2 separate regions of the Homo sapiens genome follow, and region 2 is linked to region 1. A link means that fine-mapping ties the variant in region 1 to the expression of a gene that starts in the linked region. Tissue or cell type: lung. Region 1 holds a variant in brackets; the other region holds the start of a gene. All regions are shown on one strand. Distances are between the middles of the regions.

Region 1 (5,224 bases):
TCACTGCAGCCTCTGCCTCCTGGGTTCAAGCAATTCTCCTGCCTCAGCCTCCCGAGTAGCTGGGACTACAGGTGTGTGCCACCACACCTGGCTAATTTTTTGTATTTTTAGTAAAGACAGGGTTTCACCATGTTGGCCAGGTTGGTCTTGATCTCCTGACCTCGTGATCTGCCTGCCTCGGCCTCCCAAAGTGCTGGGATTACAGGTGTGAGCCACCGCGCCTGGCCTACACTTATATTTTTTAGAGACAGGGTCTTGCTCTGTTGCCCAGGCTGGAGTGTAGTAGCATAATCGTAGCTCTCTGCAGCTGCGAACTCGTTGGCTCAACCAATCCTCCTGCCTTAGCCTCCCAGGAAGCTAAAACTGCAAGCATGTGCCACCATGCCCAGTTAATTTTAAAATATTTTTTGTAGAGACAGGGTCTCGCTATGTTGACCAGGCAGGTCCCAAATGACTGGCTTCAAGCAATCTTCCCACTTTGGCCTCCCAAAGTGCTGGGATTACAGGCATGAGCCACCACACCCAGCCAGCAAAATAATTTTTTAAAGTTTCTAAACTATAAGGAAATCTATTGAATTATATAGTTACCAAGGCAGTTGGCCAGTATTTATTGAGACACAATTGACGGTTGGTGTGCGTTTGGTATTATTATCTCATTATATGAGAATTTCAGGATTTTAGAAAATTTTAGAAAACATATCAGGCATGGTGGCTCATGCCTGTATCTCAGCACTTTGGGAGGCCAAGGCAGGCAGATCACTTGAGGTCAGGAGTTCGAGACCAGCCTGGTCAACATGGTGAAACTCGTCTTTACAAAAAATACAAAAATTAGCCAAGCGTGGTGGCTCATGACTGTAGTCCCAGCTATTCGGGAGGCTGAGGCAGGAGAATCACTTGAGCCTGGGAGGTGGAGGTTGCAGTGAGCCAAGATCACGCCACTGCATTCCTGCCTGGGTGACAGAGTGAGTTTCCATCTCAAAAAAAAAAAAAAAAAATTTAGAAAACGTGATTCTCATCCTCAAGGAGTATTCCATCAGTGTTTGTGTAAGAGTGTGGGCCGAGCGCGGTGGCTCACTTTGGGAGGCCGAGGCAGGCGGATCACGAGGTCAGGAGATTGAGATCATCCTCTCTAACACGGTGAAACCCTGTGTCTACTGAAAATACAAAATATTAGCCGGGCATGGTGGCAGGCTCCTGTAGTCCCAGCTACTCGGGAGGCTGAGGCAGGAGAATTGTTTGAATCCAGGAGGTGGATGTTGCAGTGAGCCAAGACCATGCCACTGCACTCCAGCCTGGGTGACAGAGCGAGACTCTGTCTCAAAAAAAAAAAAAAAAAAAAAATGGACATGGCGTCACCAAGGCATGTCCATAATTCACACCACAGGAAATTTAATATAGTGGTTAAGAACATGGTTTCTAGAGTAAGCTCTGGTTTCAAGTCAAGGCTCCCTCAGTTACTAGCCAAAATAACCCTAGGAAAGTTAGTTAACCTTTCTATGCACTATGTAAGTAAATAATTTTGTTACTAGTGGGTCTTAAGGCCCAGCACAGTTCCTAACATATGATAGGAACTTGATACTTTTTTTTTTGAGATAGAGTCTTACTCTGCCATCTAGGCTGGAGTGCAGTGACACAATCATTGTTTGCTGCAACCTCTGCCTACCAGGCTCAAGCAATGCTCCCCACCTCAGCCTCTTGAGTAGCTGGTACTAGAGACAGGCGCCATCACACCCAGCTAATTTTTGTATTTTTAGTAGAGATGGGGTTCACCATGTTTTCCAGGCTTGTAGGAACTTGATACATTTTTATAATGAACGAATAATGTGTCTAAAGCACTTAGTACATTGCTAAGACACAGTCAGAGTTTACTCAATAAGATGTTAAAGACAAAAAACCAACAAAAACTCTTGATCTCAGAATACCAGATTTGTTACATATTAATATGGTCCACATGGTTTGTGTTAACCTCTATACTCATACAAAACATTTATCGCATAGAGGCTATCATGTGATAAGTTGGAGATTATGTGGGGGAAACATATATGTATACGCTGTGATCCTTACCCTCAAAATGTTTATAACTTAATAAACAATAGAAAACATAAACCAGAATTAGTTGGCCATGGTGGTGCACACCTGTAGTCCCAGCTACTTGGAGGCTGAGGCAGGAGGATCGCTTGAGCCCTGGAGGCAAAGGCTGCAGTGAGTCGAGATCACGCCACTGCACTCCAGAATGAGACCCTGTCTCAAAAAGAAAGAAGAAGAAGAAAAAAAACATAAACAGGACTGGGTGCAATGGTTCATGCTTGTAATCCCAGCACTTTGGGAGGCTGAGGCAGGAGGATTGCTTGAGTCCAGGAGTTCAAGACCAGCGTGGGCAAGAGGGCAACACCTCATGTCTTATTTATTTATTTATCTCTTTATTTTTTGAGAGAGTCTCACTCTGTCACCCAGGCTGGAGTGCAGTGGTGCAATCTTGG[C/T]TCACTTCAAACTCTACTTCCCAAGTTCAAGCCATTCTCTTGCCTCAACCTCCTTAGTAGCTGGGATTACAGGTGCATGCCACTATGCCCGGCTAATTTTTGTATTTTTAGTAGAGATGGAGTTTCACCATGTTGGCCAGGTTGGTCTTGAACTCCTGACCTCAAGTGATCCACCTGCCTTGGCCTTCCGAAGTGCTGGGATTACAGGCATGAGCCGCCACGCCCGGCCTGTGAAACCCTGTCTATACAAAAAATACAAAAGTTAGTTGGGCGTGTGGCATGTGCCTGTAAGCTCAGCTATACAGGAGGCTGAGATGGGAGGAATGCTTGAGCCTGGGAGGTGGAGGTTGCCATGAGCTGAGATCGTGTCACTGCAATCCCAGCCTGGAAGACAGAGTGAGACCCTTTCTCAAAATAAATAAATAAATAAATAAATAATAAAAAATTCAGAGAAGGGAGACAGTGCTAGATACAATGGGGAGCCACTGGACATGTTGAAACTGTGAGGAAATCTGAATAAATCTGTACTTCAGGAAGACTAACCTGGCACTGGTGTGAAAGATAGATTCAAGGTGAGAGTCAGGAGTCGGGGAGAACAATTACAATACTGCTGGAAGAATCTATATGGAAGTTCTGATGGAATGGAAGACAGAGGTCAGAGATGTTATAAACAAGAGAAATAATTGCTAAATTTGGAGTCTGATCAGCTATTAGAGAGTGAGAATGAAGAAAAAGGAGGATTCAGAGATGCCTCTGAGGTTACCAATGTGGACAACAAACAGAATGATGGTGTCTTGCCAGAAACAGGAAAACTGGAAAAATAGCAAGAATCAGATAATTAGGCCCTTTGATTTGGCTATGGCCAAGGACCTCTCACCTATATAGGGAAAAAGGCAAGCGTGAAATCAATATACATAGCAATGATGAGAGCGAGTTGTTCACACAGACACGGTGGCTCATGCCTGTAATCCCAGTACTTTGAGAAGCTGAGGTGGGAAGATCATTTGAGCCCAGGAGGTTGAGGCTGCAGTGAGCAGAGATTGCACCACTGCACTCCTGCCTGGGTGACAGAATGAGACCCTGTCTCAACAAAACAAAACAAAACAAACAAAAAAAGAGTGAGTTGATGACAAATGTATCAGTGGGATTGAAAATGCAAAGTTCTTCCTCATCCAGCAGAAAGCATCCTAGAGAAAACTACAATTGATGCAGGAGAAGAAATGAGAACACTTGACAGGAGGAGGAAGATCGTCCCATGTTTGGAAAACCATTGGGGTAGATCTGGCAGTGGGACAGGGAACTGAACAGGGTTCTGTGCCTGTGGATCAAGTGACCATTTCCCCATTTTCCTCAACTCCCATCTACATCAAAGTGCATGGGACTCCTTTTCCTGACAGCCAACTTCTCCCACCCACTCCCTATCTAATAAAGGAAGGGATGATGGAAAGAAGCAGGCCTTCCTGATGGGTTTAGAAAATAATTGCATAGAACAAAGCTATATGTATGTTTTATTATGCATTTGCATTTACAGAAAATCAAAACTTTGAAAAGGCTTATATTCAAGAAGACATATGAAATCACCCAATTAAAAGATAGATGGCAAAGACTCAAAAACTGATTATAGAATTTAATTTAAGAAAAATCAAGAAATACATCAAAGGTATAAATCTGCATTTCCCTGGGGTCTCAATTCAGTGATTCAGCTTCTTTTTAGTAAGTGGGTCAGAAAACTGCTAATCCTGTAATGATTTTGTTCAACTGCACCCAGCTGGTAGATGTATTTCTTGCAGATCTAAAAAAAACAAGTATGTTAAAATTGTCAAAGTTAATGTCAACCCAATATCCAATTGCTTTGTTTATCAACCATGAAACTTGATTGAAAGTCTGTTCTTTTAATTGGCAAGTAGTAACAATGTTGTTTGTATTTTTGAGATGCTGTGTTCCGTGTTGCACATTTCTATGGTATAGCTGATACAATGACACCATATAATAGGGAGTCTCAGGCAGGGCGTGGTGGCTGACGCCTGTAATCCTAGGACTTTGGGAGGCCGAGGCGGGTGGATCACGAGGTCAGGAGTTCGACACCAGCCTGGCCAATATGGTGAAACCCTGTCTCTACTAAAAATACAAAAATCAGCTGAGTGTGGTGGCGCACGCCTGTAGTCCCTAGTCCCTGGTGCTTGGGAGACTGAGGAAGGAGAATCACTGGAACCCGGGAGGCAGAGGTTGCAGTGAGCTGAGATCGCGCCACTGCACTCCAGCCTGGGTGACAGAATAAACTCCGCCTCAAAAAAAAAAAAAAATAGGGAGTCTCATACTGGATGAAATTCAACAGGACAAACCGGTTACACTACAATATGAGGGCAAATATAGGAGCTGATGTATTGGCCTTGTGAAAACAGCTCAGGTTTGAAAACAAAAAACAAAAGGCATAAGTCATCATAGAGAAGCTTTTTTTTTTTTTTTTTTTTTTTTTTTTTCTGAGACGGAGTCTTGCTCTGTCGCCCAGACTGGAGTGCAGTGGCCTGATCTCAGCTCACTGCAACCTCTGCCTCCCAGGTTCAGTGATTCTCCTGCCTCAGCCTCCCGAGTAGCTGGGATTACAGGCGCGCACCACTATGTCCAGCTAATTTTTTTGTATTTTTGGTAGAGACGGGGTTTCACCATGTTGGCCAGGCTGGTTTCGAACTCCTGACCTCATGATCTGCCTGCCTCGAACTCCCAAAGTGCTGGAATTACAGGCG
Region 2 (5,224 bases), 140 kb before region 1:
AAAACTTTCAATGCCTCCTCATCGTATTAATAGTTTCTAATGTGCAAACAGGTGGTGTTGCAAAAGTTCATCTGTAAGTTAGCTGTTCAGAGCAGTGGAACAAAGTTTCCCATTACTGGACACACTGATCCTTTAGGTCACACAAGTTTACATATGTATACAGTGAGAAGGAGAAAGAAAGCTTAACATAACTCATCACTGAACTGTAGTTTAAATAAATGTCTAACAATGTTTCCAGAAGAAAATGTGCTGATTCATTTTGAGATGCCAGGCACATACCCTGGCCTGCAGGGAATTCCCCTCCAAGCCAAATGATGATTCTCATAGACTGTGACAGGGACTGTCTAAATAGACACTCAAAGCTCTCCTATTCCAGTGCCATCATGACATCTTTATGATAAAATCTTCTCCCCATCATTCTAACTAAAAGCTATAGCTTTCCTCCTCTGAAGTCTAGACTGCATATCTGACAGCTTTTCTATCTACTGTATTGTCTTATACTTTCAATTTCCTCATGAGTATGTCTTAACTCTTGATGAGGCTGTGAACTGGTGAGAAAAGGCTCTGTTCCTTTTTTTTTTTTTTTTTTTTTAAGACGGAGTCTTGCTCTGTCGCCTAGGCTGGAGTGCAGTGGTGCAATCTCGGCAACCTCTGCCACCCGGGTTCAAGCGATTCTCCTGCCTTAGCCTCCCGAGTAGCTGGGATTACCGGCGCCTGCCATCGTGCCCGGCTAATTTTTTTTATTTTTAGTAGAGATGGGGTTTCACCATCTTGGCCAGGCTGGTCTTGAACTCCTGACCTCGTGATCCTCCCGCCTCAGCCTCCCAAAGTGCTGGGATTATGGGTGTGAGCCACAGCGCCCGGCCTAAGGCTCTCTTCTTATAACCTCTGCAATCCGTGGCACATAAACACTCATTAAATAGTTACCAAAGAAATGAAGGAATTTATGCCGATTGCTTTCCAGATGACACATGCAGGCAAAGTCAGGAATCTGGTTTTAATGGCCAATTTGGATTTATTTCCCAAAAATATCCTACAGCCTTATTATCAGGAAGCTGCCTTGAAAATGTGTGCTAGAGTCTACAGTAGGAAATGGCTCAAAGTATGAATCAGTGCAAAATGACCTTGAGTAACATTGGTTACAGTCTGTCACATGCCTACATGTGCCAGGTAATTTACAAACATAACTCTAAAACAACCATTCTGTGAGGAAACGGGGGCTTTGAGATAGTGTGATGTGACTTACCTAAGATCACAAAGCTTTTAAGGGATGGAGGCCAGGATTCCAAAGCTAGCATTGGAACGAAAGTCTTCCCGACACCAGCCCAGGTTGTGAAGATGAGCTAGGAGGACCTACTGCCTCGCTGGCTGGTTAGGGCTGGGCGTGCCTCCCTGGTGGAAGGAAGGTACATACCTTCCTTCTCCCCCTCTATTTCCTAAAACTGCTGAGTCAGAGGATGGCCCTAACCTTCCCGACCAAGGGGGACTTTCTATCGGGAGCACATGAGCAGCTCTTCTCCCTAGCCAGTACCTTCAGATTCCAAGCTCATGTTATTTCGATATCACCACACTGATTCTCAGCTCCCGGAAAAACAACTCAAGGCTTGAGTCAGACACTCCATGTGTTGTTCAATGATCCCGCCTGCAACAATGTTTATTATAACCAAAAAATATAAACAGCATGAATGTCTATTAATAGCGGAGTGGTTAAATAATAGTACATCCGATGGTTATCGGATGGAGTACCATACCACGCAGATGTTAAATGATAAAAGTGTACTGTTAAATAGAAAAAGCAAGGTATGTACATATATGTTTGTACAGGCAAAGGAAATTCACTGGGGGGCACTTATTCATTCAACAAATATGTGTTAAGCATTTTAAGGTTACCTGTGAAACTAACAGGGGTTACCTGTGAGGAGTGCTTCAGAAGGAAAAATAGTAACTTGTACTTTTCAGTAAACTTCTGCACATAATTTTAAGGACGAACATTGTTTTTTTTTTTTGAGACGGAGTTTCGCTCTTGTTGCCCAGAATGGAGTGCAATGGCGAGATCTCAGCTCACTGCAACCTCCGCCTCCCGGGTTCAAGCGATTCTCCCGCCTCAGCCTCCCGGCATTGCTTTTTATAAAGTCAAAAGAAAAGGAAGTTTGATAAAACAAGTAGAACTATCCGATAAATACTCGCCTGGAAAGGGACAGGATTATAAGAAACAGGTAATAAGGAGCTTAAAACCCTCTGCAGTTCTGCAGTGAGGATGGTCGTGGGGGCATACAACTTTCCGTTTCAGGTCAGTTTAGGTAGGGCAGGTGGGAACTCACTCTAAAACGAGAAACCGGGGCTGATGACAAAATGCACACGTTTAGCTTCTGGCGGCCCAGGTCTTCCTAGCCGCAGATTCTGAGACGTGTATCTGCAGGTGGTGTGAAATTGAAGCCGGGGGAGCGGTTGCTTTCGGTCTCCGAGGTGCGCCTTGCACACTGGGTCATTCAGCTCCCAGGCTCGGCTCGGAGCTGGACCACTCCCTCCCCTCCACCAAAGAGGCAATGTGGGCTCCAAGAGGTCACAGCGCTGGGATGGGATTTCGACCCCGCGCTGCCCTCAAAGGCCACCTCCTCGCAGCTCTGCTCCCGCCGGCAGCTCCCGTTCTGTCCAACTCGGAAGCCGCCCGCCGCCCTCGGCGTCCACTCCACAGGCCCGGGGCCGGGGCCAGCTCCGCGGGGGAGGGGTCGGTGCGGAAGGGGCGGGGTACCGGGCCTTCCCCGCGCGACTCTGCCTTCTACGGCCCCGGCCCCTGCCTCTGGAAACCCGGAGCTCGTGCGAGCCCCGCCCCACGGTCGCGGCGTGCCTGTCATTTCCTCTCCGCAGGGCGTGCGGGTCTCGAAGATGAGGGAGCAACAACGTCCACGACCGGGCTTCTCCGGCACCTTGGGCTTCTTTCCGCTGGGACTCGACAGCGGCTCGGCTCCGCAAGCTCTCAGCGCCCAGGGTGGCGGCGACGACGCTCCCCGAGGAGACGCGAGGAAGACGGGCCCGCGCTTGCTGGGACTCCGTCAGGGCGCGTGCGCGACCCGGGCGCGGCCGGCTCAGGCTGCGGCTGCGCAAGGCGGTGCCAGACGCTGCGCCTGCGCAGTGGTGGGGCGGGGCGGGAAGGAGGGAGGCGGTGGTAGCGGCGGCGGCTGCTGAGGAGGAGGAGGGGGAGCGGAGGGAGGTGTTTCTGTCAGTTCCGGCTGTTTGTTCGGGAAGTGGATCCGCCGCTGCCGGAGCAGCCCGAAGGGAGCTGCGGATCGCGAGGCCAGTACCGACCCCGCCCGCCCGCGCGCACCGCCCCCGCCCGCCATGGCCCGGGACTACGACCACCTCTTCAAGCTGCTCATCATCGGCGACAGCGGTGAGGGCCGCAGCGGCCGGAGGCGGCGCGGGCCCTGCCGGGCGCGGCCCGCGGGGGCCTCGGGGCGGCAGGCGGGCGGGGAGGTGCCGGCCCGTGCGGGGCGGGCGGGCGGGGCAGCCCGGCGGTCTGGGCCCCAGGGGTGCGCCGAGGGGCTCCGGACCGCGCCGAGGGGAGGTTGGGGCGCGGGGCGGAGGGGCCAAGCGCGCCGGGTCCAGTCATCGCGCCTGTTCCTGCCTCACGTGTGACCTTGGTCAAGTCGCGCGATCTCTGGAGTTGGAGAGACGTGGGTTCGAGTCTCAGGACTACCACCTGCCTCGCGCTGACCTTGGGCAAGTTGCTTCGCCGTCCTGAGCCTCAGTTCCCTCATCTGAGAAGTGGGGATGTGCCTTGCTGGGTGGTGTGAGGATTCGATGGGATAAAGTAGGAAAAGTGCGTAGCGCCCTACCCGGTAAAGTAAGCTCGAAGTAAATGTTCACTATTGTCATTATCATCAGTATCCTTTATAAGCGTCAGTTTCTTCCCATCTAAAATGAGGACGTTCTCAGAACCTGCCTCATGGGATTGCCGTGAGGTTTAAATGAGGTAAGTCGGATAAAGGGCTTTGCACAGGGTCTGGCATATTCCTGCTGAATTATTATATCCCTGCGTGGTTCAGTTTCCTCATCTGTAAGATGGAATGATAGTTGGATCTGCCTTATGGGGTTGATGTGAGTATTAAGTGAGATTCTGCAGTGTTGCTCACAGCTCCTGGCACATAGTGAGTTGTCACTGTTTGCTGTTACACTACTATATACAGAGGGGTCCTGGGGATGGGACAGCCAAAATTATAAAAGTGCTTTGGCCACACACACACACTGCTTGAGGGCTCCTAGCTCTGATCACTGCTCTAGCTCCAGTGCCTAGAACAGTGCCTGGCACCCAGTACATGCTTAAGACATATTTGCAGAAGGAATTAATGAATATTAAGTGTCCTTCGAAAAGGTAGACTGGTTTCTGGGAAAAGGTGGAGGGTTTTAGAGCTGTTTGGAGTGTGGCAGGTGAGCAGGTTTATGGAGTGACCAAGAGGTCAGGAAGGCAGGCCCCAGAAGGTTTATGGGAGCGAAACTGAGGTGCTGGGGTTATATGATGTTCATGAAAGAGTCTTGGGAGCATGCTCAGTTTGTAGACCAGACCTGAGCTGAGTGTGGGGAGGGATGTCTTATGATTGGAGGCAGAGGCCAGGCTGGTGGTAGAGCCCATGGACTGTTAAGGAAAGGGGATCAAATCAAGTGAGCGGTATGACTTGGGATGTAGGAGTGTTGGGTAGCGATGTCAGAGCTAGGTCAGGGAAGTGGGTGGTTTTGGCCTCCCTTTTAAAGCTGGATGGAGATGTGGTTGGTGGTTTGGATCAGGTGAAGGATGGCTGAGGTTTCCGTGGTTGCTGGAGGAGGGGAGAGGTAAGGGGGAAAGCTGGGGGCTAACCAGGGAGATGGAAGAGTAACTGAGGTTGGGGAAGGAGGTAGAAAGGTGGAGTACTGACTGGTTATGGTTTGAATGAAGGGAAACCAGGCAAGCTCTGGAGTGTTCTCTTGGAGATGGCCTTTGGTATTCTTCAGGGTCTTGAGGCTTCTTCCTTTACATGATTTCCTTGCAGCCCTGGCCTGGGTTCTGAGGGACTGGCACTGGGGCCATTTCTCTCTTTTTGGAGTGACAGCCCGCCGTGGTCAGGAGCCTTTATCCCTCTGCAAGACATCTGGACCTCTGCGTTGATATCCAACAGTGAAAAGCCTAAACTCAGCAGGAAGATGCAGCTTGTTGGCTCTTCTCCTCTGTAAAGCCCAGGGGATGGGTTTG

Evidence for each region. PIP is the estimated chance that this variant, and not a neighbour inherited with it, causes the effect.
Region 2: it holds the start of RAB35-AS1, and the variant in region 1 is fine-mapped to the expression of RAB35-AS1 in lung (TOPMed, PIP above 0.99).

The regions. Positions count from the first base shown.
Region 1 is chr12:119,974,066-119,979,289 of GRCh38, reverse strand. It overlaps LOC112268087 (a long non-coding RNA gene), which reads right to left. Exons shown (of 4, transcript XR_002957391.2): 4 at 4,093-4,272. Among named protein-coding and RNA genes, the nearest start is that of BICDL1, 13 kb to the left of the region's middle. The variant C/T (reference allele first, on the strand shown) is at 2,481.
Region 2 is chr12:120,114,766-120,119,989 of GRCh38, reverse strand. RAB35-AS1 (RAB35 antisense RNA 1) reads right to left here and starts at 3,083. Exons shown (of 1, transcript NR_182302.1): 1 at 987-3,083. RAB35 (RAB35, member RAS oncogene family) reads left to right here and starts at 3,237. Exons shown (of 6, transcript NM_006861.7): 1 at 3,237-3,391. The coding sequence starts at 3,340. RefSeq lists enhancers at 1,169-1,218, 1,259-1,328, 1,359-1,458, 878-1,669, 2,462-3,253 and 2 more and silencers at 2,171-2,349, 2,337-2,396, 2,487-2,836, 2,997-3,306, 3,407-3,536.